2 separate regions of the Homo sapiens genome follow, and region 2 is linked to region 1. The links come from fine-mapping of genetic effects on gene expression. Tissue or cell type: whole blood. Region 1 holds a variant in brackets; the other region holds the start of a gene. All regions are shown on one strand. Distances are from middle to middle.

What was found. PIP is the estimated chance that this variant, and not a neighbour inherited with it, causes the effect.
Region 2: it holds the start of HIKESHI, and the variant in region 1 is fine-mapped to the expression of HIKESHI in whole blood (TOPMed, PIP 0.92).

Annotation. Positions count from the first base shown.
Region 1 is chr11:86,138,240-86,141,001 of GRCh38, reverse strand. No RefSeq gene overlaps it. Among named protein-coding and RNA genes, the nearest start is that of LINC02695, 54 kb to the left of the region's middle. The variant G/A (reference allele first, on the strand shown) is at 1,239.
Region 2 is chr11:86,300,855-86,303,354 of GRCh38, reverse strand. It overlaps HIKESHI (heat shock protein nuclear import factor hikeshi), which reads right to left and starts at 1,115. Exons shown (of 5, transcript NM_016401.4): 1 at 877-1,115. The coding sequence starts at 906.

The DNA of each region.
Region 1 (2,762 bases):
GGTTATGCTTCCTGGTGCTGGAGTGCTTCATGGGGCTGGAGTAACTCGGCCCTAATTCCCTCATCCATCTTTTTTCTTATTGCTAAAGCAGTTCCAGAAGGCAAATATGGAGATCTGGGACCCACAAGCCTAAAATGATAAAGAAAAGAAGAGAACCAGGGGTGGCGTCAAGATTAGAAGCTGGTTTGCTGCCAGAGCTTTGCTTCCTTTAATGCACTCGCCCACACTCTCCCTGTTTTTCAAAGACCAACTGCAGGCTTGACTCCTGCAGCCATGTCGGTGCCACTAGGCCTTGGTGCCGAATAAATAAAACTAGAGGGAAAAAATACAGTTGTCTGAGGACTGGGGATGGCTGGGAGCATCCAGCTTAGTGTCAAACTGAGGAAATGGTAGGATGGGAATCGATATGTAATCGAGAGAACAGATCTCCCGTGGACACAGACACCACCCTGATCTGAGCCTCATTTCAGTACTGCAGGCCTGGGTAGAGTCAGCTGACCCCAAAAGCACTGTGCTGGAGAATAGAGAATGACTGTCATTCTATGATGCCTTCTGAATATCGCTGCATAGACAGCATGCACTCTTTATAACAGCAGAAAGAGACATAAAAGAGACAAGGGTGGGGAGAGCAAATGTAAAAATATGAGAAATTATGCCCCTCGTCTTTAATTTTTATTATTATTATTTTTTTGAGACAGAGTCTTGCTCTGTTGCCCAGGCAGTAGTGCAGTGGCATGATTATGGCTCACTGCAGCCTCAAACTCCTGGGCTCCAAAGATCCTCCTGCTTCAGCTTTCTACATAGCTAGGACTACAAGCGTGTGCTACCACACCCAGTTAAATTTTTTTTTGTTTTTCCATTTTTTGTAGAGACGAGGTCTCACTACATTCCCCAGGCTGGTTTTGAACTTCTGGCCTCAAGCGATCCTCCTTGGCCTTTTAAAGCACTGGGATTACAGGCATGAGTGACCACACCAGGCCTTTTTTTTGAGACAAGGTGTGGCTCTGTTGCCCAGGCTGGAGTGCAGTGGTGCGATCTCGGCTCACTGCAACCTCCGCCTCCTGGGTTCAAACCATCCTCCCACCTCAGCCTCCCAAGTAGCTGGGATTATAGGCATACACCACCATGCCTGGCTAATTTTTGTATTTTTGATAGAGATAGGGTTTTCCCATGTTGCCCAGGCTGCTCTCCAACTCCTGGGCTCAAGTGATCCTCCTGCCTTGGCCTCCCCAAGTGCT[G/A]GGATTACAGGCATGAGCCACTGTATCCAGCCCTCCGGCCTTCATTTTTAAAAAGAATAAGTTTTATTTTTCTTTCTAATTACAAAAACAACATATACTCATGGTAGACAATCTAAGAAATACAGAGACCTAAAATAAATAATCAACTGTAATCCCACTAACCACTGTTGCTATTTGATGAATATTTGAATATTTACTGAATGCTGACTGTCTGAGGCACTCTAACAATCCTAAGGCTCAGGTAGTAAAATTATTCCCCTTTAATTAATGAAAGAACTGAGATTCAGCGAGGTTAAGATTTGCCTAAAAACACACAGCTGATACGTGGTAAAGCCTGGATTTGAACCTGGTTCTGTATCCCAATTTTCTCACAATATTTTATTTGTCTTGATCTACCAAGATTTGTCTTGGTATTTGTCTTGATACCAGAGATGATGGTACATCATCAAACAATCCCAATTTTCAAATGGGAAATACTTCAAAGCAAAAAGATACTGCATGAAGATGTTTCAAAAATGCGTTTTGTCTTTCAGGTCTTGTCACAGTTATTGCAATTTTGTAAGATCATTCATTGCGAAAGTGGTGTTTTGATTCTTTGCCCTTTCCGGCAACAAAAACAGAAAGCGACTTCCCTTCTATCATTTGGCCTGAGGCTTCTTTCTGCTTCTGCCCAAGGCAGACTGTGGTTAGCACTCAGTGCTTAACCTCTTCCTCCTGCATGTCCCTCTGAAGTAATACATTTTTGTTTTGACACTTTGGATATACTGGACCCTAAAAATCAAGCCAATAAGGAGCAGCCCAGAAAGGAAGAGAGTGCCATAGTCTCACCTGTGTTTTAGGGAGGTTAGTTTTGTAGCCGTGCAAGGGCTGGCTTGATTAGGAGATCTTAGACTCAGAGAAATTGGTTATCACTTTTAAAAAATGAACAAATGACATGGGTAACAACCTTACCCCATTCATAAGCTTCACCATCTCTCACCACATCTCTGTGTCCAGCCCCATTCCTGAATTCCTCATCTGACCCTCATTTCATCCTGACATTAAGGAGATTATCTACACAGATTATTTGATGATTTTTTAAAAGCTGAAAATTTAATAATTTATTCTTTACAGTAATGAATTAAGTCTGAACACTGAAATATCACTGGCACTAAAACTACCTCAGTAAAACATCATGTACCCAATACCCAATCCTGACTACCCAGTTTTGTTCCCCAGCCAGTCTAGCCCTGACAGTTTTAGACACTTCCTGCACATTCTCCACCATTAACCAGCTCTAGCTCCTCCTGGTAACTCTACAGTGGCTCTCAAGATAGAATTGTCATTAAATGTGGAAACTTTGGTTATCTTTATTTTTATAATTATTTATTGATTGATTTATTTTTTGAGACAGAATCTCACTCTTGTCATCCAGTCTAGAGTGCAGTGGCACAATCTTGGCTCACTGCAACGTCTATCTCTGGGTTCAAGCAATTCTCCTGCCTCAGCCTCCCCAGTAGCTGGGTTTACAGGCATGTGCCACCA
Region 2 (2,500 bases), 160 kb before region 1:
GTATATGTACAGAATACAATACATTATCAAAACTTGATGGGAAAAAAAGACAATTCAGCAAAGGGACTGCAACATTTTAAAAAGCCAGGAGAAAAAAGAAGGAAAAATACTTCTAGGGGAAAGGAATCAGGCCTGAAAATTGATGTCTGTGTGGTTTCTAAGGAAACAAACAAGATTCACCTTCCAGATTATTCCTAAAGAATTCCAGGTGCTGTTCTCATTTACTCTAACAATTTGGCAAGGTAAGTTATCTATTTTGACCCATAAGGAAACACACTACTCGCATCCTTCTCTGGTTATCTCAGATACGGCTCACACGTTAAGTTTCAGCCAACTTCCAATTAAATTAAGCTTATTTTTACTCGGGTTCTTCCAAAGGGACCCAAAAGATATACATTCCCTGAGCACCTTAATCTTTGAAAAACAGTTTGCTATAGACCAAATTCAATCCCAAATTCACCTCTACCTCAAGTTAATAAAGAAGGTATTTATACTGGCGATTGAACTTAGTTCTGTAACTGCAAAATGTCAAAGATAAAGACCATCTCACGAGTTATGAGGATTAAGTTCAAAGTGCCAAATAAGCGCCACACATAAGGCTGAGTGACCAAAGGCGTGCATTGCACTTAGCCCAGTACTTGGTACAAAATGCACACTTAATAAATGCCAACTTATACTGTGACTACTATTCGAAAGAATCTGAATAGAGCTGGGCAAAGGAGAGCACCCAGCTTCCCACGCTCCATCCTCACATACCCACCCAAAATATAATAAGTGGGCTTCCCCGCATCCCTAGCGCCTGCGCACCCTCCCTGCCGTAGGGCTTCGCCCTCGGTATCCTGACCCCTTCCTGATATCACCCGGTCCCATCCTCACCAGCCTCCCCGCCACCAAGCAGCCAAACATGGCGACGGCAGCTCCGTTCAGCCGGCAGTGACCTGAAGCCGGCGACTAGGAGTCCTGGGGCTACTGCCCTAGTCGAGACTAAGAACCTTCCAGAATTTGCGGGAGGGTGTCTGCCCCTCCACTACATAGTGACTGGGCCAGCGGCAAGAATGCCTCTGCCCCCGCGAACTCTGACCTTCTCTTCCTAAGCAGCCCACTGCTCAGGCAACAAGTACTTCCGGGGCTTACACCCGGTTTTCCCCACTAAGGAAGAAAGGCGGGCCAGCGCCAGTACAAGACTACAAGTCCCAGAACAAGTCCCAGAGGGCACCGCGCCAGTTTCCGGGAAGGTAAGCCTGGAGGCTTTGCACACTGGGATCGGTAGTCCGGGTGTTTTATAGCCACAAAATCTGTGGATCCTTCATTTCCATGTACAATCCTGGGAAGAGATGCTTCTAACGTTTCTGTGACATCTGAGAGATTAACGGTGCACTTTTACAATAATCACGTCACTAGATCTTTACAAAAACCCTATGAGGTAAGTATTATAATCCAAATTTTATAGGAGTGATCAGCCTCAAATCTTTACACAGCAGTAAATGTTGGAGGCTGAATTCAAGTCCTAATCCAAATCCGGGTTTCTTTCTGCTACACAGTGTCTCAGAAGTATTAATCTTTAACCAATTGTTTTGTACTTGTCTACAATTTATAGTAGTTCTTTCCAGCTTCACTTAGTTCTCCCATTCATTTGCTGTACAATTGTGGACGAGTTGTAGATGTCTTTGTGCTTCAGTGCCCCTCCTTTGCAAAAGACAAATAATGAGCCTATTGCCTAGGGTTGCTGTGAGGATTAAATGAGCTAATATGTATAAAACACTTAAAACAGTGCTTGGCTGTGCTTAATTAGTGGGAGTTTTATTGTAAAAATGTCTATTTTTTTTCTATGTGGATCTGCAGAAAAGTTTCATAGGAAATACAAAACAATAGCCAAAAAAAAAAAAAAAAATACTGGCATTAAGTACCGATTGCCACCAATACTTATTCTCCCTTTCACAGCTCCAATTCCTTTTCTTCTTGAATAGGATAGTAAAGGGTCTCTGTCCAATTTGAAATATCTGAGCTTGGCCACCAGCCGTAAAGCAGGTCTGTCTTCCCAGTTCTCAGTTTATATATGGGGGATCAGTGTTTGGAACAGTCCTCTGGCCTCCACTGTGGATCCCTAAACTGATCACCTATCTTATCACCGATACTCCTTTGAGATAGCTGTGCCAAAGGTGAAGAGGTAGGAAAGGATCTACCAATGTTTCCAACTTACTATCTAAAAAGTCCTAGAACCTTCAGAATAAAAAGGCCATTCATATGAAGACCACTTCATAAATTAAGGCACCCACACTACCTGGGTTCAGAGCCCATCTCTGCCATTTATTAGTTACATAATCTCAGGCAAGTTAACCTAACACTCCCATACCTCCTTTTCCCCATCTTTAAAATGAAGTAATAGTAGTATCTACCTCATAAAGTTGTTTTGAGGGTTCTTACACGTAAAGTACTCAATAGTGGCCAGAATGTAGCTTACTCAATAAATGTTAATATTTAGCATTATTGCCTTTCCTAA